Homo sapiens: one gene and its partners. The protein of the gene in region 2 interacts with the protein of the main gene of each other region in a biochemical or structural test. Each region holds a gene or a part of one and is shown on either strand. Other genes may lie near its edges.

The links.
Region 1: of the proteins of CTNNB1 (region 2) and UBE3A, one has a biochemical effect on the other in vitro, tested with the Homo sapiens proteins (3 studies listed by BioGRID).
Region 3: the proteins of CTNNB1 (region 2) and TCF7L1 are reported together in a solved structure, tested with the Homo sapiens proteins (2 studies listed by BioGRID, with this or other methods).
Region 4: of the proteins of CTNNB1 (region 2) and CSNK1A1, one has a biochemical effect on the other in vitro, tested with the Homo sapiens proteins (2 studies listed by BioGRID).
Region 5: the proteins of CTNNB1 (region 2) and EP300 form a complex in vitro, tested with the Homo sapiens proteins (3 studies listed by BioGRID, with this or other methods).
Region 6: the proteins of CTNNB1 (region 2) and CBY1 form a complex in vitro, tested with the Homo sapiens proteins (2 studies listed by BioGRID and IntAct).
Region 7: the proteins of CTNNB1 (region 2) and CHUK form a complex in vitro, tested with the Homo sapiens proteins (2 studies listed by BioGRID, with this or other methods).

Annotation. Positions count from the first base shown.
Region 1 is NC_000015.10:25,354,768-25,359,266, forward strand, and holds part of UBE3A (ubiquitin-protein ligase E3A), read right to left. Parts: intron 2,130-4,499; coding exon 1,924-2,129; intron 1,290-1,923; coding exon 1,125-1,289; intron 1-1,124. UniProt on the Homo sapiens protein: E3 ubiquitin-protein ligase which accepts ubiquitin from an E2 ubiquitin-conjugating enzyme in the form of a thioester and transfers it to its substrates.
Region 2 is NC_000003.12:41,237,090-41,241,527, reverse strand, and holds the end of CTNNB1 (catenin beta-1), read right to left. Parts: intron 3,513-4,438; coding exon 3,452-3,512; intron 2,395-3,451; coding exon 2,186-2,394; 3' UTR 1,869-2,185; coding exon of another isoform or gene 1,782-1,868; 3' UTR 1,085-1,781; downstream 1-1,084. UniProt on the Homo sapiens protein: Key downstream component of the canonical Wnt signaling pathway.
Region 3 is NC_000002.12:85,283,073-85,287,571, reverse strand, and holds part of TCF7L1 (transcription factor 7-like 1), read right to left. Parts: intron 4,078-4,499; coding exon 3,994-4,077; intron 1-3,993. UniProt on the Homo sapiens protein: Participates in the Wnt signaling pathway. Binds to DNA and acts as a repressor in the absence of CTNNB1, and as an activator in its presence.
Region 4 is NC_000005.10:149,491,823-149,496,300, reverse strand, and holds the end of CSNK1A1 (casein kinase I isoform alpha), read left to right. Parts: 3' UTR 1-3,319; downstream 3,320-4,478.
Region 5 is NC_000022.11:41,095,592-41,100,090, reverse strand, and holds part of EP300 (histone acetyltransferase p300), read right to left. Parts: intron 1-4,499. UniProt on the Homo sapiens protein: Functions as a histone acetyltransferase and regulates transcription via chromatin remodeling. Acetylates all four core histones in nucleosomes. Histone acetylation gives an epigenetic tag for transcriptional activation.
Region 6 is NC_000022.11:38,662,736-38,667,234, forward strand, and holds part of CBY1 (protein chibby homolog 1), read left to right. Parts: intron 1-2,810; exon of another isoform or gene 2,811-2,950; intron 2,951-4,499. UniProt on the Homo sapiens protein: Inhibits the Wnt/Wingless pathway by binding to CTNNB1/beta-catenin and inhibiting beta-catenin-mediated transcriptional activation through competition with TCF/LEF transcription factors.
Region 7 is NC_000010.11:100,219,199-100,223,697, forward strand, and holds part of CHUK (inhibitor of nuclear factor kappa-B kinase subunit alpha), read right to left. Parts: intron 3,783-4,499; coding exon 3,668-3,782; intron 2,984-3,667; coding exon 2,914-2,983; intron 1,479-2,913; coding exon 1,390-1,478; intron 162-1,389; coding exon 72-161; intron 1-71.

The DNA of each region.
Region 1 (4,499 bases), on a different chromosome or scaffold from region 2:
TTTTCCAAGAAAAAAACATTCAAGAATATTCTTAAAAATTCAATTTTACACCTACTTCTTAACAATTTCACAATTCTCTGTTATAGCCAATATTAAGCTATGAAAAGGCCATATACATAAAACTGTCAAGAATATTCTTAAAAATTCAATTTTACACCTACAAAGAAAACTACTTCTTACAATTTCACAATTCTCTGTTACAGCCAATATTAAGCTATGAAAAGGCCATATACACAAAACTGTCATACTTATAAATGTCAATTTCGATAATGTATTAAACAGAACTGAATATAAATGCTGGAGACGCAGAAAATTCTTTAGGTTCTCTCAACTAGGTATGTAAACAGACACATTTAAACCATGTATCCATCTATTTATAAATGCCAACCGTTTTAAGAGAGTACAATATATTTGATTTAAGCAAACCAGGAAGTCCCAAGTTTTCTACCATAGAATATTTGGTAAGCTGCCTACTGTATCCAGTTCAGCAAAAATGTGGAAGTACTGACTGACACATAAACTACTGTATCAAATCATAAAAGGAAAATGTGCTTTGTACCCTTAGTGTGTATAATATTTAATCAAAAAATTATATCAATATAAACATGTTTCTTAAAGGTATACTATATATTTGTCATAATTTTTTGCTTGTTATGTTCTGGGTTATTCCCATTCCCGATGAACACATTTTAGTCAATAGAAACCCAAATCTGACGTAAAGTATACTTTTCAGAAATGTATTTTTATCACAAACAGGATATACATGTGTAAATTAAATGTAATTTTTATTTGTTCTGTGATAAAGACCTTAATCATGAGGTTCCTGCTTACAGCTTAATACAAGAAACACCCTGCTTCTTGCTTTATACTACAACCACACTTAGCTATTAACTATCTCCTGCTTCATGTCCTCTTTCTCTAAAAGGGGCTTTAGTGCCCAACTGTGTGCTTTCATACCAACTTATATCCAAGATTTAGAAAAGTGGACTCTAGCATTTACATAAACTTAGTTACTTGTTTTTTTTTTGTACAGACTATATTAGATACTTCTTTAAAAATTATAAGCATACATGCTTTGAAAGTGTTAATGAAGAGACAAAATGTGACATAAAAACATTTATTACCTTCCTGTTTTCATTTGTAATTGGAATTTTATCACCATTTTCCTTTAGATCATACATCATTGGGTTACCAAAAAGATCTGTCTGTGATATCTGGAAAGTGATCATCATGTCATCTTCCACATTCCCTTCATACTCCAATAAATCTTTTAAACTCTGATATAGAACCTAGCAACCAGAAATGGTAAATTGAGGCCACCATAGAACTACAAAATACAACAAATAATTTATATCACTCTTCTTAGAAGACAACAAAAATCTTATCAATAAAAATTGTAAAAAGTGTAGACAGTATCCCTCCAGTCCCCCAAATAGTTTCCAACCTATAAAAGAAAGATTGTCAGTCACTGTGATGTCCCATTCTCTGCTGAGAAACCCCATACCACCAATTTAGCAATAGAATTCACACTGTGCTCTATGAGAAATTCTGTGGTGTCTCAAGGTGGGGGTGGGGGTGGTAGGAGCAGGCACACTCGTTGTAACTACCAAGACCCTTAGCCAGGGCTACTCTGATTTTTACCTATCTCTTAAGATTTCACTAAAACACAAACAAAATGTTTAGAAACACTTCTCTATGAAATCAATCTTACAAAAGCTTCGTGCTGACAGCAATATATAAAAATGTCCCCCTTTGAGTTTTTAAGTGTTTCTGGTACTTCGGTCAGATTAAAACATTTTTATCTTATTGATAAGAGTATCAACAAAGATTCTAAACAAAAACTTTAAAATTTTGACATAAATTAAATTTTTGCATTTAAATAAAATCTAAGAGACTGAATTAAAAAAATGACAAAGAACTTACTGGGTGAGAGTCTCCCAAGTCACGAAAAGTTCCTTTTTTCCCCATTAGCTTCCTGTAGACAACCATGGGAAAATGTACATCCAGTATACAGTTATTGTAAATAGCCAGACCCAGTACTATGCCAATCAGAGTAAACTGACCCTCAGTTTCAAAAGAAGATGGATTAAACCAAAACAATTTTGTAGATTCATCGTATGTGAACATACCTATAAGAAATGATTTTTAAAAATACATTACTTTTGTATTTTATTAAGGACTGATGAATAATACAAATATAAACTTAAAATAATTATGCATATAAAACATTTAAAATATATGTAATTAGGCATGCAACATTGATTTCTATTATATTAGCACTTGAGAAAACAATGTCCACATATATCTGCTATAAATTGGGGTGAATGGTGATATGTAATTTTATGAAGCCAAAGGAATAAAGTAGTAAGTAATTTGGTGGCATCGGGTAGAAAAATACGTTAATTAAATTCAAGCTTTCTAATTTTCTACTAACACATAAGAAAAGTTATATTCATGCTTTATCCACCCATAGCTGAAAAATAAACATAAAAAAACAAAAAATGGCTACATTTCCAAAGTGTTTCATTTATAAAAATATAATTACTTATATCTGTACCACACGTACTATTTTTGAAAACAATTTTTCATTTTTTTCCTTGAGATGGAGTCTCGCTCTGTTACCCAGGGTGGGCTGGAGTGGCACGATCTCAGCTCACTGCAACCTCTGCCTCCTAGGTTCAAACAATTCTCCTGCCTCAGCCTCCTGAGTAGCTAGGACTACAGGTGTGCACCACCACGCCAGCTAATTTTTGTATTTTTAGTAGAGAAGGGGTTTCACCATGTTTGCCAGGATGGTCTCAACCTCTTGACCTCGTGATCTGCCAGCCTCAGCCTCCCAAAGTGCTGGGATTACAGGCGTGAGCCACCACACCTGGCCTAAAAAACAATTTTTAATCACAGTAAAGAAAGGTTCGTTTTTTCAAAATTAGACAATGGTGCCATGAAATTTTTCTAGCATTTTCCTAATAAAATCAGATGATCTGAAATACATAAACCTGGATAAATCTGATGAACTTAGATAAACAAAGCTATTCAATACACATGTTAATTATGGGCCAATACGTAAAAGAAAAGTAGTTTCGTAGTCTTTCAATTTCACATGGTCTTCACTATGCAAGCCCCAATCATGGAGGCTTTTTTTTTTTTTTTTTTTTTTGAGACGGTCTCGCTCTGTCGCCCAAGCTGGAGTGCAGCAGCACTCAGCTTAGTGCAAGCTCCGCCTCCCGGGTTCATGCCATTCTCTGGCCTCAGCCTCCGGAGTAGTTGGGACTACAGGCGCCTGCGTGGAGGCCTTTTTTATATCACTCATTGGAAAATTGGGGCCCGGTGTGGTAGTTCACACCTGTAATCCCAGCACTTTGGGGAGGCTGAGGCAGGCAGATCACTTGAGCTCAGGAGTTCAAGACCAGCCTGGGCAAGATGGAGAAACCCCATCTCTACAAAAACACAAAAAATAAGCTGGGTGTGGTAGCATGTGCCTATAGTCTCAGCTACTTGAGAGGGTGATGCATGGGGATGGTTTGAGTCTTCAGCCTGGGAGGTGGAGGTTGCAGTGAGCCGAGACAGAACCACTACACTCCAGCCTGGGCCTCAGAGCCAGATCCTGCCTCCCTCCACCAAAAAATAAAAGATTAAAAAAAAGGAAAATTGGAATCTTTGGAATGAGTACTACTAAAAATTGATTTCTTCCCTTTTAAATGACTAAGGAAAAAAATTTTAATTGAATTTAAATCATTTTACTACATGTTTAGTTGCTACTGTGAAACAATGAAAACATCTTAAGAATTAAGTCTGAAAAAAATCTGTAATTTCCAATAGAAAAGTAGAGCTTAGAAATCAGAAATCAAATTATACAGTATATAAGTATTTTAACCTGTTTATAAGAATTTTAAAATCTTTGAAAATGTCATTGTCACTTTAAGTTTAAAAATAAGGAGCTTTAACATGTTTCCTTGATCACTAGGAGTATGAATTAAGCTTAGGACATTTTCTGAATGCAAAATGGTTTGAAAATTAAACAATTCATATTTGAGTTTCATGGTTTCTATCTAAACATTTTTTTTACAGGCCAAGTTACAACATCCATGGAAATGCTTTTAGTTATAAGTATGGTATTAACAGGATCAAGAACAGCTGACAAATAATTACAATTAATAAATTTGTTCAAGCTGACAATGGTGTGTCTAAAAAATTAATGAATTTAATAAAATGTCACAAATGCCCTTCCTTGGAACCAAGAGCAACAAGCTATAAGTTAATCAGAATATAACTCTGAAGTTCCATTTTAGGCACATTTTCTCATGTTCCAGGGAGAAAAGCACCATAACCTCCTGGTAAAATACTCCTTTTTGATACTTCTACTGCCATCACTTCAGTTATCTTACTGGAACTGCTTAATCTATGTTTTTTCTTACAAGTATTTCTGCATATAATGCAAGTATGCTTTATAGCTAAGGTTTAACATTTCTAGATACATCAAAAGCTAGAGCTAAGGTTTA
Region 2 (4,438 bases):
TAAAATACAATGAATTAGCAAAGCTCTGAAAACATTCTCTGGTTTTAAAAAGTTGTTCTTTCTGTAATTGAAACACCGTGCGGTGGCTCTTTATGTTAAAAGCTGAATTCACTGAAGATCTTCACGGTGTTAACCTACCAATAGCCCTAGGCTTCTTGAAATACTGGCTGGTTTGGTTTATCACACATGAGACAGAACCTGAGACCTACCACATCATCAGCTATGTGAATGTTTCTTTTCAAACCCTAATTACATTTTAGACCACAATGAATTCATTTTTGCAAAGCAAGGGCATTCACAAAAAGGCCTCCCCAGATGAAGCTGATTTTTAACGAAAAAGAACTGAATGTATGTTTTTCTCATAATTAATAGTCACTATCAATCATCATCAAAATAAAAACAGTAAATCAGAAAGAGCTCTCCCTAAAGACAAAACACTTCTTTCTTTTACTTTTTAAAAGACCAAAACACAAGTCTTAACAAACAGGTCTACCTGAAGAGATGAGATGAACTAAGCTTGTCAGACCTACCACCGGGATGATAGGATCATCTGGCAGGTACTGTGGAAGGCTCATTCTGGTTCTGATTATGTTCAGATAAACATCAACACTTAAACCTATTTAATTTATTTAATTATTATTAGTTCAAAGTCCAGTTGAAGGAATTCCCCTCTCCCAATGAGTCACACTTGGGTGAAGGTGATTCAAATCCAAATCCAGGTAGGGGTAGTTACTATTTATTTCATTACTTTAATGGAATCAAATCATCTGAGGGGGATTGGGGTAGAGATAGATAGATGGATAGTCTGCTTGGCTTTCTCCCACCAAAGCCCAGAACTAATCACAATGTGCAAGGCTGAAACACTTTTTTAGGGGTCCAGCGTAATCCAGGGCCAAATGCTAAAGAAACTTGGCAAATTGCATCTAGAGAAGTAGGGCCCTCTCTATCGCTACAACAAATTACTTCACTATGTATCTATCTATCTCAGGATAAAGTTCAGGATAAAGTTGAGTTGGATAAACTTACTTACCACCCTCACAAACCATTTATTAATGACAAGAAAAAAAGAAAGAGTGACACAATCGAATGAATTAAAAGTTTAATTCTGAACCATTTTTTATAACCGCATTTTCTCTTGAAGCATCGTATCACAGCAGGTTACAACAACTTTGGGATAAAAGGCAACTGGTAAACTGTCCAAAACAAGGTTCCAAATAACACCTCTTACTGATTTACCCTACCCATACATATCCCAAATAGTTTTTGATCAAAAACATGAAATAGATCCACCTGCTTATTTTAAGCATATTAAAAAGGAAACTAATTGGACCATTTTCTATTTGTCTATTTTATACAAAAAGGCTACACAATTGTTACACTTTATTCAGATTACAATTAATTAGAGTGATTATGAATTAGTGTTCTACACCATTACTCAATTCTTAAAAATTAGAAATTGCTGTAGCAGTATTCACTATAACTTAACACTACGAGAGACTTAAAAAACAGTTACTGCAAAAAAAAAAAAAAAAAAAAAAAAAGAGCTACTTCAAAGCAAGCAAAGTCAGTACCATTACAGATATTCTTAAAAAAAAAAAAAAAAAAATTTAACAAGCAAGGCTAGGGTTTGATAAATTCCATCTTGTGATCCATTCTTGTGCATTCTTCACTTCTTGAGTCACTCCCAAAATCCATTTGTATTGTTACTCCTCGACCAAAAAGGACCAGAACAAAAAGTTTACTTCAATTGTTCCCATAGGAAACTCAGCTTGGTTAGTGTGTCAGGCACTTTCTGAGATACCAGCCCACCCCTCGAGCCCTCTCAGCAACTCTACAGGCCAATCACAATGCAAGTTCAGACAATACAGCTGTATAAAGAGAGAAAGGCTGCTATTAATGTTTAAAACAGCAAATGTTACTCATTTGAGTATTAAGTTGCAAAAGCTGTGGCAAAAAACATTAAAGTTAATAACTTCCACACATGATCACATAACAACCAGAAATCTGAGAACATTCCAATGTTCCAAGACATCTCCTTTCAAAGTATATACCTGTTTTTGTGGCAGATTTACAAATAGCCTAAACCACTCCCACCCTACCAACCAAGTCTTTCTGAAGTTCTGTAGGCAGAGTAAAAGTATTTTACCCAAACTGGCTTTTTAAAACTTCTTACCTAAAGGATGATTTACAGGTCAGTATCAAACCAGGCCAGCTGATTGCTGTCACCTGGAGGCAGCCCATCCATGAGGTCCTGGGCATGCCCCAGATCTGGCAGCCCATCAACTGGATAGTCAGCACCAGGGTGGTGGCCACCCATCTCATGTTCCATCATGGGGTCCATACCCAAGGCATCCTGGCCATATCCACCAGAGTGAAAAGAACGATAGCTAGGATCTAGAAGAGTCAGGGTGTCAACAAAATAGGCAAGAAGGAAGGCAAAAGAGAGAGGAGAGAAGCAGACATAGACGTTAACACTGAGGTTAGGGCATCCAAAGTTCAGCAGCAAACTTGTCAGAAAACAACGCTTTCTAGCCTCTTCAACCTCCAGCTTTCTTTAGCCAAGTAATTACTCAGTGCCAGGCCACCCATGAGACTACACAAATAACATCTATTTCCATCAGACAGGCACACCAGCAGGGCCTAGTCACATCATTAGTCTAACCCTGAACACTCTGCATTTACCCCTGTCAAGAGACTTGGGGTTCCCGAGGAGAAGAAGCAGGAATCTACTGTGTGACCACCTAGGCAGTGAGAAGTCATGGGAAGGAGGATTAAGACAATAATGAGGTCTGGCAGGTGTAATCTATCTTGACAAAAAGGCCAAGTGACACCCACAAAAGTACTAAGGAAAGGCACTATTTCCATGAAACCTCAACATATTTTATCTTAGGGTTGACATGTTATTTCTCACAGTAAGAATCTGCGCTTTAGTGGTTTCATAATTAGGTAGAAGCAGATGCGGTTATAAATGTAAGACAGTTATAATTGTTAGTGGTCTATGCCATCCTCCATGTTCATTACCCAGATTTAAATTAGCTTTTCAAGAAAACCCTGATGATAATGCAACTATGTAAAAACCCACCCGAGATCTGAGCCTAGAAACAGGAGTTTTCCTATCTTCCTTGGGTAGCTTGTAGACAAAGGTATTATGAGTCCTCTGGCCAAAAAGAGAATAAAAAGCCAGGTAAATTGTAACATCCTGCACTGCAGAGGCCTAGCAGTAGCATGTATTTGTTGGTGGTGTAATCCTACTGCTACTCATTGTGTGGCTCTGAATTCCCTGTGCTCCATTAAAGATACTGTTGCTGACTGGAATTTAAGAACTGCTTTTAATTGAAGCCACTACTTTTCTGCCAACACTGGTTTCCCAGATGAGCAAACCGGCTCTTCTGATAAAAGTTTTAGAACTTTAGCTTGATCTGGAGTTAATCGAGAAATATGAGACACATACCATCCTGGCGATATCCAAGGGGTTCTCCCTGGGCACCAATATCAAGTCCAAGATCAGCAGTCTAGATAAACATGCACAAAGCAAGGAAGAATAGAAAGCAAAATGAAAATTCTCAAAAGTACACTAATTTTTTTTAAAGCATACTTTCAGATTACAAAAGGAACAAGTAACTCCAACATTACACAAATGCTTAGAAAATGGAAGTTCTTCAAAACTCCACACCTCAAAGATACATTTTTTTTTCTCTTTGCACCTCACATTAAAAATACTCACTGACTTGTTCTTTCAACAAATATTATATTAAGCACCTATTATGTGCTGCCAGGCACTGTTCTACATGCTAGAGATATAGCAGTTTAAAAAAAAAAAAAAAAAAAAAGGCAAAATGCCTACCCACAAACAGGAGCTGCTGATAGGATGTGTTATATGAAAGAAAAGTTTTAGCCTGAGCAGCTGGACAGACAAAGCTGACATTAACTAAGACAGAGAAGACAGTGAAAACAGGTTTGTGGAAGGGGGTAGGTGGAGAAAGTTAAGGGCTCAAGTTGGAACATGTTAATAAGATGCCTATTAAAAACCCAAGTAACACACTACTCACTGGTAATTTGCTTTTTTTTTTTTTTTTTTTTTGTGTTGGAGTCTGGCTCTGTCACTGAGTGCAGTCTGTTAACTCCTGGGTTCAAGCAATCCTCCTGCCCCCGTCTCCCCAGTAGCTAGGACTATAGGCATCCATCTCCATGCCCAGCTAAAGATGGGGTTTCACTATGTTGCCCAGGCTGATCTTAAACTCCGGTCTCAAGAGCTGCATCGTTGTAAACCTAACAATCTCTCTTTCCATTCACTCAACAAACATAATCCACTGTATGTCTGTGTACCATCAATGATCTCTATAGAATGGATAAAATATCAGGATGTTCTAGTTTTATTAGAAACAATGTTTCAAGGAACCACCTGTACTGAGGACAAATGCTGAAGAAAAATTCATAG
Region 3 (4,499 bases), on a different chromosome or scaffold from region 2:
GTGGCAACGGTTCATGCTTCTCTGCCCTTAGACAAAATAAGGGACCCCTGCTCCACCACAATGCTGAGTTATTATTTGCAGAGCACACATCTGCAATGGTTAGATGTTTGTTTGGCAGTTGGAACTACGGGTGTAGAACTTTCTTGAGAGTTCTACAGCTCTCTTGATGGGATTTTATATATTTTTTCTGTCACAAACATTGAGAGGAATAAGTGATGATGAAGAGTTGATTTATTTGAATAAAAGTCTAGAAAGAAAATGGAAGCTTCAAAAAGACAAACAACTGATTATGTGTATTAATACAGTATCTTGGAGTCAATGATAAGATTTACAGGAAGCAGAGAGTAGTCAGGCCTTGGCTGTCGGCTGTGTTGCAAAAAAGCAGGAAAATGAGTGGAGTTAGTTATTCGATGGTGACTGAAGCGCTAAGCCGGGCTGCAGTGGAGTGGCAGAATAAAGGAGGTGACAGAGGTGTGGGAAGTCAGGCGGTAAACAATAAAAAAGAAACAGGACGGTGCTCACAGGAACAGGAAGGCTGAACACAGGGTTTTTCTTTCATTTCTCAGAGGATTGCTCTGTGCAAAAGGAAGAATGGGAAACTCAGAGTACACGTGTTAGTTTTGTTTTTTTGTTCACGACAGGGTCTCACTCTGTCACCCAGGCTAGAGTGCAGTGGCACAATCATGGCTCACTGCAGCTCCGAACTCCCAGCTCAGCCTCCTGAGTAAATGGGACTATAGGTGTGAATGACTGCATCTGGCTAATTTTAAAAATTTTGGCCAGGCGCAGTGGCTCACGCCTGTAATCCCAGCACTTTGGGAGGCCGAGGAGGGTGGATCACCTGAGGTTGGGAGTTTGAGACCAGTCTGACCAACGTGGAGAAACCCTGTCTCTATTAAAAATACAAAGGTAGCCGGGCATAGTGGCACATGCCTGTAATCCCAGCTACTTGGAAGGCTGAGGCAGGAGAATCGCTTGAACCCAGGAGGCAGAGGTTGTGGTGAGCCAAGATCGCGCCATTGCACTCCAGCCTGAGCAACAAGAGCAAAACTCCGTCTTTTTTGTAGAGATCTCACCATGTTGCCCAGACTGGTCTCAAACTCCTGGCCTCAAGCAATCCTCCCTCCTTGGCCTCCCAAAGTGTTGAGATTAAAGGCATGAGCCACCATACCTGGCCACTATATGTTAGTTTTTTTTTTTGTTTGTTTGTTTTTTGAGTCACAGAGTCTTGCTCTGTTGCCCAGGCTGGAGTGCAGTGGTGCAATCTCAGCTCACTGCAACTTCCACCTCCTGGGTTCAAGCAATTCTCCTGCCTCAGCCTCACAAATAGCTGGGATTACAGGCGCGTACCACCACGCCGATTTTTTTTTTTTTTTTTTTGAGATGGAGTTTTGCTCTTGCTGCCCAGGCTGGGGTTCAATGGCACAATCTCGGCTCACTGCAACCTCTGCCTCCCGGGTTCAGGCGATTCTCCTGCCTCAGCCTCCTGAGTAGTTGAGATTACAGGTATGCGCCACCATGCCTGGCTAATTTTGTATTTTTAGTAGAGACAGGATTTCTCCACATTGGTCAGGCTGGTCTCGAACTCTCGACCTGAGGTTATCTGCCTGCCTCAGCTTCCCAAAGTGCTGGGATTACAGGCGTGAGCCACCACGCCCGGCCTCATGTGTTAGTTTTTAAAGGGAAATAACATTCTTGAAAAGTAGATGGAGATGCGACAATATGCAGAGAGAAACTAAGACAGAGGACCCAGCCATCTCAGGTCTTCAGGAGTGGGCTGGCAGACGGCACAGGAGAGGTAGAGGAAGGCACAGATCTGAAACAGAGATGGCTGCACTGGGGGGAGGTGCAGGGCACGAGCCAGGTCTAGGGTGGGCAGATGTGGTCCGCACATCCTCCACCAGGGCTGACTGGCACCACTAGAGGGCACCCGCGCCTCGTGCTTGGCTATCCCAAGTGGGACTCTGGGCCAAAGCCACTACCCTGGCTTATGCCTGAGGTGTGGAGTGCTTGTTCAACAGCAGCTTGTGCCTTGGCGACTGGCTGCAGAACCTGCTGCCTTTCCCGGATGGCTGGTCCCGCACTCACGGTTCCTTCCACTGTCATCCTTGCCTGACTCCCTGGTGATGGCTGTGACAATCACCTGAGAGCTGCATGTGGCATCCCACTGTAGATCCCACTGTAAACTCCCAAGGGCTCCACAGGAGCAGGTCTCCTGATTACTGGAAATCATACAGGCTCCCTGCACCCTTATTTATTTAGCTTTCTGCACATATCTTCTTTCTCTTCTGCTAGACTCTAAGCTTTTAATGAATAAGAATTATCAGTTTTTTTTTTTTGAGACAGAGTCTCGCTCTGTCACCCAGGCTGGAGTGCAGTGGCGCGATCTCGGCTCACTATCAGCTCCGCCTCCGGGGTTCACACCATTCTCCTGCCTCAGCCTCCCTAGTAGCTGGGACTACAGGCGCCCGCCACCACGCCTGGCTAATTTTTTGTATTTTTAGTAGAGACGGTGTTTCACCGTGTTAGCCAGGATGGTATCGATCTCCTGACCTCGTGATCCGCCCACCTCGGCCTCCCAAAGTGCTGGGATTACAGGCGTGAGCCACTGCGCCCAGCTATCAGTATCTCTTAAAATGTCCTATGAGATGAAGTAATGTCTGGGATTCACTTTAAATCCCCTATGTAGCAGGAGGGAAATTCTGGGTGAAGGGAACATGGGGATTCATTATGTAATTCTCTCTACTTTGATACATCTTTAAAATTTTCTGTAATTAAACTTTAATAAACATCATAGAAGCCCAACGCCTAATACCTAGTACAGGGCAGTAACAGTGAAGTCCTATGTCTGCTCGTCTGTAAAATGCATAGGTCATGCAGGATGAGGGTCCCTTCTAACCGCATTCCCTGATTCTGAGGCTCACTGTACAGTCGGCGAGCACCAGTTAGCTTGTGGGGTGAGTGCATCTTAAGGCAAGTGTTGACCCAAGCACCCAGGAAAAGCCCAGGAAAGTAGGATATCTGGTTCTGTTCCAGGAGCATCTCTTATCAGCTTTGGGTTTCAGTCCTTTGCATGTCCTGAGGAGGCCAGAGGTACTGCTTGGATCCACTGCTCCTGTCTCCCAGGATTGTCCAGACCCTCCTTTCCAGCTGGTATTGCCACAGGGCCTGGCAGAAGAGGCTCGGCTGCCCTGAGGAGCATTTGTTTGCATACGTCCTATTGAATTCTTTCCTATAACATCCTGTACAGAAGAGCCTCTTCGGCCGGGCGCGGTGGCTCATGCCTGTAATCTCAGCACTTTGGGAGGCCAAGGCTGGCGGATCACGAGGTCAGGAGATCGAGACCATCCTGGCTAACACAGTGAAACACCGTCTCTACTAAAAATACCAAAAATTAGCCAGGCGTGGTGGCACATGCCTGTAGTCCCAGCTACTTGGGAGGCTGAGGCAGGAGAATCGCTTGAACCTGGGAGGCAGAGGTTGCAGTGAGCCAAGATTGTGCCACTGCACTCCAGCCTGGGCAAAAGAGCGAGACTCCGTCTCAAAAAACAAACAAAAACAAAAACAAAAACAAAAACAGAAGAGCCTCTTCAACTATTGCCTGGCAGCTATGAGGGAGAAGAGGAGGCAATTCTGGGTAAGCCTCAACAGGACAGAGAAGCCACCCTTGCCCACGTGAAGTGGGCAGCGGGTTCAGATGGCAGCCGGGAAGGATCGCAGGCAGGCTTCTGTGATGAACCAGGGTGAGCAGCCAGGGCCATGGGGGTTGGGGGACGGCTATTCCAATTACAAAACATCTGAGGCGGTGTGGTGTGTGTGTTGAGGTCACAACCCAATTGTTAGCCCCAAGCACTCAGCTCTTCCTCACTGTACTCACACATTTGAGGAAACACTGTTGGACCCCATCTGCTTCAGCGTGATGGCAGAAGGCAGTGGCATGGGATGAGGCCACTAATAGTGGCCCTTTGGTGCTTTAAGGTGAAACAGACTTACCAAGTGTGCTGGAGATGGTGACCTCGTGTCCTTGACTGTGGCGCTGGAGGGGACATCGAGGAGGGGCCATTTCATCTGCAGGTACTGCACAGGGAACAGAAAAGAAAAAGCTGTTGGTGAGATGAGGCCTCACAAGTACTCAAAGTTTGCTGGGCTCTGCTGTTAGGGCACCGGGGCAGGCCATTGGGGTGGCCTGCATTTTCATGCCACATGCCCTGTACTGGGTCAATTTCCAAACGATTATAACAGGAGCGAGCATATATTTACAATCACTACCAGCCTCACCACGCCCTATGTCATTTTGGGGGGGGGGACACGAATGACAACTAAGCTGAACTTTAAGTGGTGGAGAGAACCGATCCATTCCAGCACAACCAATCAACATATTCAAAGAACCTACTAGTGAGGCTCAAGTCCCCTCCCTATGCTGTAGTCATGGACACGCAGGGCTGACCAAGGAGGCAGAGGCTCCCAGATGGCCATCCTGCCCCATCCATTTCCATCAC
Region 4 (4,478 bases), on a different chromosome or scaffold from region 2:
TGTTTGAGCATATGAAAGACTCTGCCTGCTTAATTGTGCTAGAAATAACAGCATCTAAAGTGAAGACTTAAGAAAAACTTAGTGACTACTAGATTATCCTTAGGACTCTGCATTAACTCTATAATGTTCTTGGTATTAAAAAAAAAGCATATTTGTCACAGAAATTTAGTTAACATCTTACAACTGAACATGTATGTATGTTGCTTAGATAAATGTAATCACTGTAAACATCTATATGATCTGGGATTTTGTTTTTATTTTGAAATGGGAGCTTTTTTGTTTACAAGTTCATTAAAAACTAAAAACTGTTTCTGTAAGGAAATGAGATTTTTTTTAAACAACAAAAAATGCCTTGCTGACTCACTATTAAATAAAAATCTCCCCAATTTTTTGATAGACTACTTCAAGCCATTTGTTACATGGTATTCCTTTGCAAGTCAATTTAGGTTTCGTGTTATAACTTTTCCTCTTTTTTTAAGAAAAATGAAAAAAGTAATTCTTTTGTCTGAAGGGGAAAGGCATTCTTTCATTTTTTTCTTTTTTTTTTTTTTTTTTTATGACTTGCAGGCACAATATCTAGTACTGCAACTGCCAGAACTTGGTATTGTAGCTGCTGCCCGCTGACTAGCAGCTGGACTGATTTTGAATAAAAATGAAAGCATTAAAGGGTTTCCCTACAAAACATTTTTCTTTAAAATACTTTTGAAATGGCTATAAGCAGTTGACTTTCACCCTTGGAGAGCATCACACTGTGTGAGGTTCAGTGATTGTTGACCCTCCCCAGCCCCTCCTGCTTCTTTAAGTTATCTGTGTGCGTGCGCTTCCTCTCAATCTTCTTTGCACGCTCATTTCTTTTTCTCTGACCCATGAGAAAGGAAAACTTACTGATGATAATTTTTAAATAGTGTAATTTATTCATTTATAGCATGTCAGGATAAATTAAAAGAACATTTGTCTGGAAATGCTGCCGGGAGCCTATTGTGTAAATGTAGGTATTTTGTAAAATAACCTTGAAATTGTAAATTGACACGTGTTTGGTCAGATTGTGTCAAGTTTAATTTGTTTTGTTTTCTTTTTTCTTTTTTTTATTTGAAAACTACTTTAGCAATAATTAATTCCATGATTATCACATTCTGCCATTAAGGGATATTAGTACCGTAATACTGAAGAAATTTTATTAAGTCTGAACTTCTGGGGTAGGCAGCTTCTTTGTTTCTTTTCTATCCACCCTTGTCGGTTGAGGTATTTGTTTCTTGACTAATAAACCCTTTGATACTTTTAGCCAGAAATCAGTCTCATAAAGCTATTTTTGAGTATAGTTTGTGTAAAATAAAAATGTTTAGCTTTGGTAATAACTTCCAAGCTGAACTCCCTCTAGCAAGATATTTTTCAGTGCTTTTATTTACTATGCACTTAGACTATGCACTTTTTCTGAAATATTTTTGTAACACTTTTTTGTATTTTTGCCATTTGAAAAGGTTGTGGTGTAGTTGGTCTGTAATTAAGTTGCAGATTTAAAACTGCTGTTAGCTTTGTAAATCAAAATATAGGTGTTTTTTGTCCTGGTATATCGTCATTCCATCTGCAGCTGGAGCTGGAATCCCATTGATCTTCTAGCTACCATTCATTTTCTTCACTGTTCACAAAAGAAGAGTGTGAAATTCAGTGAATGCTGTTACTAATCCTGTTACGAGATGAATCTCATTTCACCAAAATTAAATTATGTTTTTCCGCTAAAATGATGATACAAGTTGAAGACACATCACTCTGAAATTGGAAGACCTCACCACTTAAGGCTCCACAGTGGCTTACTCAGCTGAACTCTAGGTTACTACTCTTTACTTTGTTCACCCATTGGGGGGTGCAGTTTTTTTAAAATGTTGGGAGATGGCCATTCTAACTACTGTTGAATGTCTCTGTTTTGGGAAGGTATAACAAGAAATAAAAAAGAATATATATGAAGGGAGAGACTGGTTATCTCCTCCCATATGGTTGTGCTTATCCTCTTATGGCTTACAAATGAATATTTGGAGGTTTGCTTTCACAATGATTTCCCATCAACAAATATTTTTAGTAGGATTTTTCCTGTTTCTGTTAGTCCTTGCAGTACTCATAAATGTTTTAAGCTGAGCATACTGTAATAGTCATAAGTTTAATTTCATTATAATAAAAATAATCAAACAAAAGGACTTTAGAACCCAAGACAATGAGCTAGTTTTCCCTAAAGTTTGCTGAACTATTAAGGAATATGTTCTTATAGCTTTTGACTAGAATGAGTCATGGGAATTCTAAGAAGGGATGGCCTAGACATTTTTAGCTCAGTTAAATTCAGCATTTAATGCAGGTGAGTTCCTGGGTCGTTTTCCAACTAGTCTGGAACAGTCTGGTTCTGACTCAAACTGGTATAAAGCATTATTTTAGGTTTTCTCTTTGCCAGTTTTTAAGCAGTTATAACCATGTAAATCAAGATGTGAGGACATCTATATGAAGTATAGTAAAGAAGTGGTGTCAGCAGATCAATATGTGTGTCCTGGGTGTGCTGCTCTCTTAAGTGAGACTTTGTGAGACTATACTTTAAATGCATTATTACCATTGCTTACATTTTGGGGGATTTTCTTCCTCCTCAAAACTTCCATTTCTATTGTAATATTCTTAATGACAATCTTTTTTTTTTTTTAGCAGTGTATGTTTGAAACAGCCAAAGATGGCGATGAACCAAGTGTAAATTGATCTAAGCAGCCCATGCAGTTTGTGTTGAATCAACAAACAGTGTATTGTTGAAGTGAAATTATTTTCTGAAATGACTTGTTAGACCAGTTTTGAGGACATACTCAAAAGTAGAGTAATAATGGCTCCTGGGATGGAGAAATATGAGATGAACCTGGAACATTCTATTATGGTGCCACAAAGGAAATCTAAAAAAAAAAAAAAAAAAAAAAGTGGTTGGCTAGGAGCAGTGGCACACGCCTGTGATTCCAGCACTTTGGGAGGCCGAAGTGGGCAGGAGTTCAAGACCAGCCTGGCCAACATAGTGAAACCCTGTCTCTACTAAAAATACAAAAATTAGCCGGGTGTGGTGGCGGGCGCCTGTAATCCCAGCTTTTCAAGAGGCTGAGGCAGAAGAATCGCTTGAACCCGGGAGATGGAGGTTGCAGTGAGCTGAGATCGTGCCACTGCACTCCAGCCTGGGCGTTGCAGTGAGACTCCGTCTCAACAACAACAAAAAGGTGGATACATGTCAAAAGGGCACAGGAGCCACTTGAAGGATTATACTTGCTAAATCTGTGTCAATTATCAAAATAAACTGGTAGCAACGTTACAACTCACTGAATAAGATACCATGATTCCATGTTGACTTAAAAATGGAGAGAAGAGAAAGCTCTAACTTGAATGTCAGCTAATTTAAGGTGAAAGGATTTTATGTGTTAGAAAAATCACCATTTTGCAAACTAGTTTTCAGAATCCTTAATATATGTCATCTCTTTTATTCCTCATAACAGTAATAAGAAACAGTTAACTGTTTCAGAAAAGAGTGGGGCTGCCCAAGGCAAGGCATGTTGGTAATTGGTAAGCTTTATAGAGCCAAGACCTCAACCTGATTTTCTTGCTTTCATGCAGTTAAGCCATGGTGCTCCTCTTGTTATATCACCCTTTTAAACCCAGAGATTGATAGTATTAGCCATCATTTGCTGAGTGTCATGCACTATTCTAAGTGCTTTACATGTATTTGCCTAATCAGCGCCCTGTGAAGTACATCCTGTCTCCATTTTGCATATAAGGATACCAAAGCACAGAGTTGGAGGGAAGATAGTTATATTCCCTTACTTTATTTATTTATTTTTTTGAGACAGGGTCTCGCACTGTCGCCCAGGCTTGAGTGCTATAAGACCTTAAGTTTCCCCTTTCAAAGTAGTTTATAGTGTCTAAATATCTTACATAAAAGTATATATCAAATAGGGTGGCAGTCTGGAAAGATTTAAAATCCAGAATGACTGGAAGGTTGGGCAACTAAGATTTCTTAAATTGCAGCTGTTTTCAACATAGATGTGTTGTAGAGTCTTTTCGGTTTCAAAATTAAATTGACTATAAATGGAGTGTGCTTAATTCAGATCTAAAAATTTTGGAATTAGAATATTGGGTGCTTGGCTGAGTGCTGTGGCTCACGCCTGTAATTCCAGCACATTGGTAAGCCCAGGTGGGCGGATCACTTGAGGTCAGGAGTTTGAGACCAGCCTGGTTAACATGGTGAAACCCCATCTCTGCTAAAAATGCAAAATTAGCCGGGCATGGTAGTGCACGCCTGTAGTCCCAGCTACTTGGGAGGCTGAGGCAGAATTACTTGAACCCAGGAGGCAAAGGCTACAGTGAGCCGAGACTGAGCCACTGCACTCCAGCCTAGGCGACAGAGCGAGACTCTGTCTCAAAAAAAAAAAAAAAAAAAAAAGTATTGTGTGCTTATATTGCCTCCCTTACCCCCT
Region 5 (4,499 bases), on a different chromosome or scaffold from region 2:
TTGCTGACTTTTTAAATTTTTTTTCTAGAGATGGTGGGGGGATGGGGGGTCCCACTACATTGCCCAGGCTGGTCTTGAATGCCTGGCCTCAAGCAATCCTCCTGCCTCAATCTCCCAAAGTGCCAGGATTACAGGCGTGAGCCACAACAATGTTTTAAACTGTGCGCCATTCTGAGTAGCCTGATGAAATCTCACCTGACCGGGTAGTGAATCTCCCCTCCGTCTAATGTATTCACCTGTATAAACTACCAGCCATTTGTCACTTAGTAGCCATCTCAGTTATCAGATTGTCAGACTGACTATGGGGCAGGGCAATGCTTGAGTTTTAAGTAACCCTTATTTTACTTAATGACAGTCCCTAAGTCCAAAAGTAGCAATGACAGCTATATGGATATGCCAAAGAGAAGCTGTAAATTGCTTGAAGGTGAAAGTTCTTGACTTAATAAGGAATGAAAAAAAATTGTATGCGGAGGTTACAAAGATCAAATCTATACATGAAATTGTGAAGGAAAAAAATTCGTGATAGTTTTGCTGTTGTACCTCAAACTGCAAACATCACAGCCACAGTGCATGACAAGTGATTAGTTAAGATGGAAAAGGCATTAAATTTGTGTGTGGAAGACACGGACAGAAACGTGTTCTGACTGATGACAATTATATTCACTACTATACAGGGTTTCAGGTATCCACTGGAGATCTTGGAATGTATCCCGCAAGGATAAGGGGGGACTACTGTATATCCACGAAAAACAAAAACAGGCCGGGCGCGGTGGCTCATGCCTGTAATCCCAACATTTTGGGAGGCCGAGGTGGGTGGATCACGAGGTCAGGACTCCCTGTCTCTACTAAAAATACAAAAATTAGCCGGGCATGGTGCTGCGCAGCTGTAGTCCTAGCTACTCCGGAGGCTGAGCAGGAGAATCGCTTGAAGCCGGGAGACGGAGGTTGTCATAGGCCGAGATCACGCCACTGTACTCCAGCTTGGGCAACAGAGCAAGACTTCGTTGCAAATCAAAAAAACAAAAACAACCCCCAAACCATCTACCACTGCTTTCCTTCTGATATATTTAGCAGTAAAGTTAAAAACAGTTAACAATGAACACATACTACACAGAAGCAAGCATAGTCCTAAGCATCTGATAAAGAGAATTCTCATTTATTCCTAACCACAATCCTGTAAGGTGGGTAAGTAAGGTGGATTCCTATAAGGTGCGCACCCACCTTACAGGGCTGTGGTTAGGAATAAATGTGAGGAGGTTGAGCCAGGTTAAGTATTTGGCCCAAAGTTCACAGTTAATAAATACAAGCCTGGGCTATGAACTCTAGCAGTCTGACTCCAATACTCATTCTCTTAGCTACTCTCTTACTCTTTTCAGTACTTTTAGTTTTACTCTCTCTCTCTCAACAAAATTACTTCTAGGGCCAGGTGCTATGGCTCACGCCTGTAATCCCAGCACTTTGGGAGGCTGAGGTGGGCGGATCACGAGGTCAGTGTATGGAGACCATCCTTGCTAACACGGTGAAACCCCGTCTCTACTAAAAATACAAAAAATTAGCCGGGTGTGGTGGCGGGCGCCTGTAGTCCCAGCTACTCGGGAGGCTGAGGCAGGAGAATGGCTTGAACCCGGGAGGCGGAGCTTGCAGTGACCCGAGATCGCGCCACTGCACTCCAGCCTGGGCGACAGAGCGAGACTCCGTCTCAAAAAAAACAATCACTTCTAATTGCTTTGGGACATTTATAAAAAAGAATCTAGATCTAAAAACAAATTATATCCAAATTGCTCAGAAGAGGCTTAACACCTCAATTATTATTTATCCTCTTAAGCGCTTCTGGGAAAGTGAGCAGTAATTTCCCATGAAAATTTCAAAATGAAACTACCGTCTATTAAGCGAAAAAAAATCACCTGCGAAGTTCAATGTTAAAAAATTTTTTAGCAGGGAGGGGAGAGGGATAGCATTAGGAGATATACCTAATGCTAAATGACGAGTTAATGGGTGCAGCACACCAACATGGCACATGTATACATATGTGACAAACCTGCACGTTGTGCACATGTATCCTAAAACTTAAAAGTATTAAAAAAAAAAAAAATTTTTAGCTGGGCGCGGTGGCTCACGCCTGTAATCCCAGCACTTTGGGAGGCAGAGATGGGAGGTTCACAAGGTCAGGAGATCGAGACCATCATGGCCAACATGGTGAAACCCCGTCTCTACTAAAAATACAAAAAATTAGCTGGGCATGGTGGCAGGCGCCTGTAGTCCCAGCTACAAAGCGAGACTCTGCCTCAAAAAAAAAAGAAAAATTTTAGACTTGGTATAATTGGTTTCATTTGCCCATTAATTTTACTGCTTGCCTCACTTAAAAAAATATTCAACTTTAGAAATCTTCAAAGAAGGAAACCCTAAAATCTGGACAAACATAAAACTAGCATCTTTTACTTTTCCATTAATTGCTGGGTATATGAATTGGCAGAATAACTCTCAAATTGTTTTTGTAAATATACCAGGAAAAAGTATTTTACACTCCCACTTGTATCTGCAACACTCTTCCTACTCTTTTTCTCTTTCCTATTTACCACTTAATGTCCCTACAAATACCACTTTGCATTAATTTTCAACTGTTTCCATTTTTTTGTTTTTATTAAATAAAGAAGAGAGAGAAAAGCAAAGAAAAACACAAAATAATGCCAAAAGGCCACCAAGGCAGAAACCCTTTCCTCCCTCCTCCCTATTATCCATTCACTGGACATGCCAATACAATTCCAACCTCTGCTATAGAAGATGAACTCCTGCTGGAATAAGACCCCCATATTGTAACGCATTCAAGATTTACAACTTAAAAGTCACTTTATCTCACTATCAACCAGAGACAACCTTCTTGAAGTCCTATAAATGAACTTACAAGGCCTTGAGAATAATTGCCAGAAAAACTTAAAGCACTTTAGTAAAATGTTTTGCAATTTAATACTGAGGAGAGAAATGCCTCACTAAATCAGGAGCTATATCTGCAAGACTCCAGAAGCAAACTCTTATGTAAACATTCAAGCCAAAATAAAATAAAACATAGCATATCACAAGTTACAGAGCTGGAAAATAAATGGTCTTGATCAAAATGTTTTGGTTAGGATGACGAACCACTAACACAATGGCATTTTAAGAAAATAGAGCTGACAGCCGGGCATGGTGGCTCACGCCTGTATTCCCAGCACTTTGGGAGGCTGAGGCGGGTGGATCACCTGAGGTCAGGAGTTCGAGACCAGCCTGGCCAAAATGGTGAAATACTGTCTCCACTAAAAAATACAAAACTTAGCTGGGCATGGTTGTGGACACCTGCAATCCCAGCTACTGAGGAGGGTGAAGCAGAGAATCGCTTGAACCTGGGAGGTTGAGATTGCAGTGAGCCAAGATCGAGCTACTGCACTCCAGCCTGGGCAACGAGAGCAAACCTCTGTCTCAAAAAAAAAAAAAAAAAAAAAAAGTAGAGCTGACATTTTAAAAAGCCTTACCACTTCTCCACTGTGTACATTAATCTACTGGTCAAAAAGCAGGTATACTTTACACACTATCTGCCCTGTGTCTTTGAAATGGGGGAAAAACTCAAAAAACAAAAAAGCACAAAACCCAGGGCCACAAAACTGTACCAAGACCAGAAGGATCTTTACCCTACTTAATTATATGCCAGATCCTAAAATCCTATCTTTCCAGGTGCTTTTTAAGTGCATACGGCATTAAGCGTTTACCAAGCAGTGACAAAACGTGTTCACTGAGTAATGAAGACAACAGATGACCCTCATCATTTCCATCACTCAAGATGATCAGAAACAGCTCCAAAAGATATTTCCAGGATTTGCCTAACATTAACTTTTCCAGTCTTTTGGTCATTTTTACAAAAAAAGTTTACAAGTGGCTTTCATAATCTTTTTTTTTTGGAGGGAGAGGGAGAACAAAATGTCATTTCTCAAATGATTTGTTTTACCCTAACCATACCAAATGAAATAAAAATTTCAATGGATCAAATGCAAATACTGAAACAGGAACATAAAGGTGTGAAGGCTACAAATAAGTCTTCTCTTCCCCATCCCAACACGTAAAAGTTGAGTTTAACCTAAGTTATTTGAATCAACCTGGAAATTTTTTAGGAGAATATCTGAGTATTAAACAGCAATTCAGAGGTTGAGATTTAAGTAATAATTTGATTTGTAACACTTTAGCATGTCATCCCATTGGATTCCAGTTTTCTTTCCTTTAAAGCTGACATTAGAACGCTCTTGGTGGATATATTTACATCACGAAATTTGCAAGCCTAAATCACTTTTTTTAAAAAAGTTTTAGGTGCTAGAATTTCGGGCTTATTTCAACCAGTTCTAGACAAAAACCATAATATCAAGAAATAATTTTCTTTCACATTTATAAAATACCCAAGTGACAACTCAAAAATCAAAAGTTACAAGTTTGAAACTTAAAAGTTTTAAGAGGTGATGTGCCTCCAATAAAAGTTA
Region 6 (4,499 bases), on a different chromosome or scaffold from region 2:
TTTGCCTGCCTCTGCCTCCCAAAGTGCTAGGATTTATAGGCATGAGGCACCATACCCAGCCTGGGGTAGGCAAACATTTTAAAAATACAATACAAGCACTAATCATTAAGAAATAATAATAAATTGGGCTGGGTGCAGTGGCTTATGCCTGTAATCCCAGCACTTTGGGAGGTCAGGAATTCAAGACCAGCCTGGCCAACATGGCGAAACACCATCTCTGCTAAAAGTACAAACATTAGTTGGGTGTGGTGGCAGGCGCCTGTAATCCCAGCTACTCAGGAGGCTGAGGCAGGAGAATTGCTTGAACCCAGGAAGCAGAGGTTGCAGTCAGCTGAGATCACATCACTGCCCTCCAGCCTGGGCGACAGAGTAAGACTTGATCTCAAAATAAATAAATAAATAAATAAATAATTGGATTTCATTATAATTAAGAACTTCTGGCTGGGAGCTGTGGCTCACACCTGTAATCTCAGCACTTTGGGAGGCCGAGGCAGGTGGATCACGAGGTCAAGAGATTGAGACCATCCTGGCCAACATGGTGAAACCCCGTCTCTACTAAAAATACACAAATTAGCTGGATGTGGTGGTGCGTGCCTATAGTCCTAGCTACCTGGGAGGCTGAAGCAGGAGAATCGCTTGAACCCGGGAGGCGGAGGTTGCATTAAGAAAGCAAAAAGAGGCCGGACGCGGTGGCCCACACCTGTAATCCCAGCACTTTGGGAGGCTGAGGTGGGTGGATCACCTGAGGTTGGGAGTTCGAGACCAGCCTGACCAACATAGAGAAACCCTGTCTCTACTAAAAATACAAAAATTAGCCGGGCGTGGTGGCGCATGCCTGTAATCTCAGCTACTTGGGAAGCTGAGGCAGGAGAATCACTTGAACCCGGGAGGTGGAGGTTGCGGTGTGCTGAGATGGCGCCATTGCACTTCAGCCTGGGCCACAAGAGCGAAACTCTGTCTCCAAAAAAAAAAAAAAAAAAGGAAAAAAAAAGAAAGCAAAAAGAGGTCGGGCGCAGTGGCTCATGACTGTAATTCCAGCACTTTAGGAGGCGGAGGTGGGTGGATCACTTGAGGTCAGGAGTTCGAGACCAGCCTGGCCAACATGGCAAAACCCCATCTCTACTAAAAACACAAAAATTAGCTGGGTTTAGTGGCAGGTGTGTGTAATCCCAGCTACTTGGGAGGTTGAGACAGGAGAATCTCTTGAACCTGGGAGGCAGAGGTTGCAGTGAGCCAAGATAGCACCACTGCACTCCAGCCTGGGTGACAGAGCGAGACTGTGTTTCAAAAAAAAAAAAGAAGGAGAAAGCAAAAAGAAAAAAGTGGGAGAAGATATTTTCAGTACTGTACATATATACAGTAGTGAAACTTGTATCCAGCGTATATAAATACCCTTACAAACCCTTACAAAATGAACATGATAGACAGCTCAATTTTAAAAAATGGCAAAAGAGGGCTGGGCGCGGTGGCTCATGCCTATAATCCTAGCACTTTGGGAGGCTGTGGCGGGCAGATTGCTTGAGGTCAGGAGTTCGAGACAAGCCTGGCCAGCATAGCGAAACCCTGTCTCTATTAAAAATACAAAAATTAGCTGGGCATGGTGGTGTGTTCCTGTAATCCCAGTTACTCGGGAGGCTGAGGCAGGAGAATCACTTGAACCTGGGAGGCAGAGGTTGCAGTGAGCTGAGATTGTGCCACTGCACTCCAGCCCGATGACAGAGGGAGACTCCATCTCAAAAAAAAAAAAAAAAAGCAAAATACATGAATAAGCATGCCACAAAAAAATCCATATATGTCCAAGGAGTATGTTAAATGATGCTCAACTTAATTAGTTATTTGGGAAAAGCAAATTAAACAATGCAACACCATTACATACCTGCCAGAATGGAAAAGATGAAAAAGAAAGTGCCAGATATTGACAAGGATCTCTTGCAAACTACAGATAGGAGTCTAAATTGGTACAATGACTTTGGAAAACCATTTGGCAGAATCTGTTAAAGCTAAATATATGAATGCTCTGTGACTCTATAGTTATACCCCTAAGTATGGAACCAGAAAAGTGTACATATGCATGTAGATATACATGCTCAAGTCTTATGTTCTTAGCAGTAGTTTTTTTTTTTCTTGAGACAGGGTCTTGCTCTGTTGCCCAGACTGAAGTGTGCAGTGGTGATCACAGCTCACTGCAGCCTCAAACTCCTGGGCTGAAGCAATCCTTCCACCTCAGCCTCCTGAGTAGCTAGGACTACAAGGGTACACCACCACGCCTGGCTGATTTTTCAATTTTTTGTAGAGATGAGGTCTCATTATGTTGCCTAGGCTGGTCTTGAACTCCTGGCATCAAGTGATCCTCCTGTCTTGGCCTCCCAAAGTGCTAGGATTACTGGCATAAGCCACCATGCCTGGCCTAGCAGCACTATTTTTGGTGGTCAAAAACTGGAAACAGGCCGGGTGTGGTGGTTCATACCTGTAATTCCAGCATTTTGGGAGGCTGAGGCAGGCAGATCACGTGAGCCCAAGAGTTCAAGACCAGACTAGGCAACATGACGAAACTCCCATCTCTATTAAAAATGCAGAAAATTAGCCAGCATGGTGGTGCGTGCCTATAGTCCCAGCTACCCATGAGGCTGAGATGGGAGGATCACCTGAGCCTGGGAGGTTGAGGCTACAGTGAACAGAGATGGTACCACTGCACTCCAACCTGGGGGACCAGAACGAGACCCTGTCTCAAGAAACACAAAACAAAACTGCAAACAGCTCAAATGTCCATCTTCTGTAGACAAGTAAATTTTGCTGTGTTTATACAATAGAATATTATCCAGCAATGCAAATGAACAAACTATAACTACACACAGCTGCATGGATAAATGTCAGAAACATGACGTTGAGTGTGAGAAGCCAGATGCAAACGAGGACTCACTGTGCAATTCTGTGCATGTACAGTGGCCAGGTGAGGCTTATGGAGTGCTGAAATGCTCTGTATCCCAATCTGGAGGGTGGTTTTAAAAAAATGTTTTGAGCCAGTGCGTTGGTTCACACCTGTAATTCCAGCACTTTGGGAGGCCAAGGTGGGCAGGTCACTTGAGGTCAGGAGTTCGAGACCAGCCTGGCCAACATGGTAAAACCCTGTCTCTACTAAAAATACAAAAATTAGCTGGGCATGGTGGCACACACCTGTAATCCCAGCTATTTACAAGGCTGAGGCACAGAGCAGGGCTCTGTCTCAAAAAAAAAAATCATAAATAAAAAATAAAATTTAAAAAATACTTGATTTTAATTTTTTTAGAGATGGGGGTCTCGCTGTGTCACTCAGGCTGGTCTTGAACTCTTGGGCTCAAGCAATCCTCTCACCTTGGCCTCCCAAAGTGCTGGGATTTCAGGTATAAACCACCACGCCTGGCCCTGGAGGGTGGTTATACTTGTGTAGTAAAAACTCATGAAACCTTACACTTATGATTTGTGGTAGACTTTTCTGTATTAATGTTATATATATATATATTTTTTTTTCTTTTTTAACCTTTTTTTGGTAGAGACGGGCCCTGCTAAGTTGCCCAGGCTGGTCTTGAACTCCTGTGCTCAAGTAATCCTCCCTCCCTGGCCTCCCAAAGTGCTAGGATTACAGGTGTGAGCCACTGCTCCCAGCCTAAATAAAAAGTTTGCTTCTCCCCTCCTTTTCTCCCCAAAAACCAGGGTGTTATCAGGAAATCTACTTAACTAGGCCTAGGTGAATTGCAATAGGTTGCATTATGCTAAAAGCAAATGTACAGGTTGGGGGGGTGTTGTTGTCAGCTCCGCCATGTCGTGGACCTGCCCCCTTTTCAGGACACCTCACGTCACCTTCCATAACAGAACAGGTAACGTGACATATGAGGTGCACTGTTGACAAGTGACACTGGTGACAAGTGAGGAGCACTGTTATCAATCTGGAAAGGAAATATAAGCATAGCTTTACTCATTTATTTATTTATTTTTTTAATTTATTTTTGAGACAGAGTCTTGCTCTGTCACCCAGGCTGGAGTGCAGTGGCGCAATCTCGGCTCACTGCAACCTCTGCCTCCTGGGTTCAAGCAATTTTCCTGCCTCAGCCTCCCAACTAGCTGGGATTACAGGCACCCGCCACTATGCCCAGCTAATTTTTTGTATTTTTAGTAGAGACAGGGTTTCACCACGTTGGCCAGGCTGGTCTCAAACTCCTGACCTCTTGATTTGCCCGCCTCGGCCTCCCAAAGTGCTGGGATTACAGATATGAGCCACCGTGCCCAGCCATTTCTTTCTTTATTTTTTTTTTTTTAGAGACAGGGTAATGCTCTTTGACTCAGGCTGGAGTGCAGTGGCATGATCATAGCTCACTGGAGGCTCAGACTCATAGGTTCAAGTGATCCTCCCACCTAAGCCTACTGAATAGCTGAGACTACAGGCACGCACCACCATACCTGGCTAATTTTTGTATTTTTTGTAGAGACAGAGTTTTGCCATGTTGGCCAGGCTGGTCTTAAAC
Region 7 (4,499 bases), on a different chromosome or scaffold from region 2:
TATATTCATGATCTTCAGAAATAAGAGAATCCTATACACACTTAAATTCAAAGAAACAAAACAGGTCTCACCAGATACTGCAGTGTTCCCACAAAAGATGTACACAGACTTCCTTGATCAACATCTTTGGCATATCCCAGATCAATTATTTTATGTATTATCTGCAAAATAATAAGACAGATTAAGTATTAAATGGTAGAGAAATTTAAAAAGGAAAGACAACAATATCCTTACGAGGCTGTAGACAGGGTAGTGGTGAGGACCTTGGGCTCTGTAATAACACAAAAATATTTCAAGTCTGAGTGCCACCACTTAACTAGGCATGTGATCTACCAAGTTATTTAACCTCTCTCAGTAATCTAATTGGATGACTAACAGTCCCTGCTTCACAGAATTGTTATTAGGATCCAATGAAATAACGAAAGTAAAGAAGGTAACACAGTGCTTGGTACATGGTAAAAATTGAATACAGGTGGGCTATTAATTTTTATTTTACTATATTCAAAATAAGCTCAATCCATTAAACTGGAAAGTAAAGGCAAGGGTGACTTCCAAACTTGAAGAAGCATCATACCTCCTTATAGTAGATTAAATGTGAGTAAATACTTAGATCTAACTTCAGGAATGTCCTGAAGTCTTTGGATTAAAAAAAAAAAAAGCAGAGATATTTGGTGCCAAGCATACGTGAAAGGTTCCTAAGAGAAGAGGCATCACCAAGGTTCCAACACCTCCAAGAGGCCAACAACTATTTTCACTAACTAAAGAGACGGCACACACAACTCAACACAAGGTTCAGACTCTTGGCCTTTAAGTCTTTATTGGAATGAAATTTGGATGCTGGAAACAAGAAAACTGCTTAAGTTACCAATGAAATGAACATTTTAAGAGTCAATTCACAATTTCTGGTTCTTCTCCAGATGACTCATTTAAATTGGGGGAAGGAAAATAAGTTTTAAAAATATATATACTTTCTTTTTTTTCTTAAAGTGGACCCAGGATGTGCATGTATGTGTTTTGGATGTGCTTCATAAGAATAAAATAATAAGTGTTAACATATTATGTATTCACAGCCTGTATCTTTGCTAGATACTATGATGGAAAAACAGACTTGAACAAGACAGGTGAAGTCTAGGAGCTGGGTTAAGTATGAAAAATGAAAAAAAAGAAAAAGAAAAAAAAAGCAGGTGCTGTTCCTTCTCTGATGGAACCACTGTTTAGCAGAAGGGACAAAAAAACTAAACACAAAACTACAGTTCAGTGTGGTGAGGTCTGAAATGGAAAAAGTAAGACTGTTATGGGCATACAGCAAAGACACCAAAGCTCAAGGACTAACTATATCAGAGAGACTATATTCAATAGGCATGAAACATTACTTCAGGTTTCACCTACCTTTCCACCAACATCCTGAAGAACTATGTTTTCAGGTTTTAGATCTCGATGTATAATTTTGTTTTCATGCAAATATCGAATCCCAGACCCTAAATAAAGTTTAAAATATACTTTAAAGTAACAGAAATCATTGAGTTAAAAGAAAAATTCACCTCACATTTTGTACAAATCTACTCTGATGCTCAAGTTTATATGGATCATCGTAACTACACAACTAATACTACAGTGTCCAGGTTTTCTTCACAGAAAAAAAAGTAACATTAAACAAATACTACAAAATTATACTATATGTTCATTTAACTCATTAGAATTAACACCAAATAGAAATGCAACAAGCAATTGGGAAAATCCCTGAAACTCTTATAAGCCTCTTTCTCCCACCTAAATCACTCATTTCAATTGGACTTTAGCCCTCATGACCTTGGAAAAGAGGCAAAACCAAAATCTATGGGGAAACAAATTTTTGGTTTTTGAGGTTCCTCCAAAAGGTTAGGTACTGGTTATTTTAGGAATTTTTCTGGAGTCATTCTGATTAAGCAGAGATTTTTCACCCTGAAGAGTTGACTTGGCTGGGTGCGGTGGCTCACGCTTGTAATCCCAGCACTTTGGGAGGCCGAGGCGGGCAGATCACGAGGTCAGGAGTTTGAGACCAGCCTGGCCAACACAGTGAAACCCCGTCTCTGTTAAAAATACAAAAATTAGCCAGGTGTGATGGCGGGCACCTGTAATCCCAGCTACTCGGGAGGCTGAGGCAGGAGAATCGCTTGAACCTGGGAGGCAGAGGTTACAGTAAGCTGAGATCGCACCACTGCACTCCAGCCTGGGCAACAGAGCTAGACTCCGTCTCAAAACAAACAAACAAAAAAGAGTTGACTTGAGGACCCATCCCTCAAGGAGATGTAATTCCACTGTAAACAAAATTACTATGTCAATGGTAGGGGGGGAGAGAAATTGAGTAAGGTCATTTCACATGATTTTTTTGTCAGCTATTGGAACATCTATTAGACAAAAAAAGGACTCTTAGCCACAAATAAATAATAAAATATCCTAGTTTCTTTTTGTGTGTGTGTGACAAAGTCTCACTCTGTTGTCCAAGCTGGAGTGCAGTGGTGCAATCTCGGCTCACTGCAACCTCTATCTCCTGGGTTCAAGCGATTCTCCTGCCTCAGCCTCCCGAGTAGCTGGGACTACAGGCATGCGGCATTGTGCCCAGCTAATTTTTGTATTTTTAGTAGAGATGGGGTTTCACTATGTTGGCCAGGCTGGTCTTGAACTCCTGACCTTGTGATCCGCCTACCTTGGCCTCCCAAAGTGCTGGGATTACAGGCGTGAGCCACCGCACCTAGCCAAAATATCCTAGTTTTAATTTAGCATCAATAGTAATAGATTTTTATAACTTCTTATAGATGTTGAAATTCTATAGACTTTGTATAGTGTATCAACAATTCTCCTGAATTCCCAAAAAGATCTTTTATGGGCCAAAGGGACATTACATTACAATGGTATTTTAATACTGATACGTACCTATATCACTTAGTAAAGAAAGTATCTGGCTTTCTTTAAGTCCACAACAATTTTCTGGTTTGTTGAGCAGCTAAAAAAAGAAAGAAATCTAAAAATCTGTTCTGCAAATTGCTGGGCTGCAATAGTGACCACACATTAATTACTATACTCTAAAAGAATATTCAAATGAGAAAATAAGTCATAATAAAATACAAGGGAATAAAATTACCAAATCCATACTGAGGGCATGTAAATTTCATGATAAGGCTCATAAAAGTAAAAAGAGGCAAAAAGCATTTGAAACTGGAAAAGGCTGACAAATCTCATGGATATATATAAAAATGGTCATATGGGCACATTTAAAATTAGGTAGAAAAAAAAGATTGCAATACAGAAAACAACTTTTTATAAGCACCTTAACCACTGAAATTTTCATCTAACACCATTGCTATAGTCCCATCAAACAGCAACAACAAAAATGCATTTTCTAAATCAGGAGTCAACATTTTCTGTAAGGAACCATATGGTAAATACTTTAGGTTTTGCAAGTCACATAGTCTCTGTTAAAACTACTCACTTCTGCAGCCATAAGAAAGCAGCCATAGACAATGTGTAAAGAAATGAATGTGGCTGTGTTCCAATAAAACTTTATTTACAAAACAGGAAGCAGACCATAGTTTTTCCGATTCTTATTCTAGTTTATTATATTTAACATGATTCAAACATTGCTAAAGTTTGTGATTTACTCTCTCTCATCTCAAAACATCCACACTACCTTTCGGAGATCTCCTCCAGAACAGTATTCCATTGCTAGAAGAGGCACATCATGAATCAAAATATTCAATTCTTCAGGAACATCACAGGCCTTTACAACATTGGCATGGTTCAACCTAATAAGAAAGAAAAACATTACAATAAAAAAAATTATTTCCAATAAAAAGGGACTGGATTTGAAATGCTACTTAATTGTGGGTGGATGAACAGAGGGGGAAAGATCAGTATTATTTATAATATTCTAATTTCTGATTTGTATAATTAAAAATTAGTAATTTTTTAAAAGAAAACACACATAAAAATACCATCACTATTACTACTATTACATTTCTAAGTGCCAAGCAGTAAACATTTTAAATATATTAACTCAGTTACTTGTCACAATAATCCTATTATAGGTAGATTTATTAATACTTTCACCACACAGGAGAAAATTGAAGCACAAATTGGCTAAGTAACAAGATCACACAGTGAGTAAGTCAAATCTGGCGTTCTAGGCTGGGTGTAGTTGTAACTGTAATCCCAACAATTTGGGAGGCTGAGGTGGGAGGATTGCTTGAGGCCAGGAGTTCGAGATCAGCATGGGTAACACAGTGAGACCTCATCTCTACAAAAAATTAAAAATTAGCCGGGTGTGGTGGCGCATGCCTATAGTCCCAGCTACTCCAGAGGCTGAGGTGGGAGGACTGCTTGAGCCCAGGAGTTCAAGTCAAGCCTGGGTAACATAGCAAGACCACATCTCTTTTAAAAAAAAAAAGAAAAAAAGAAAAAGAAGCAAACAGAATTTCCATGTACATGTAGGACCTGATAATTTATACTATTAAGCTTTCCTG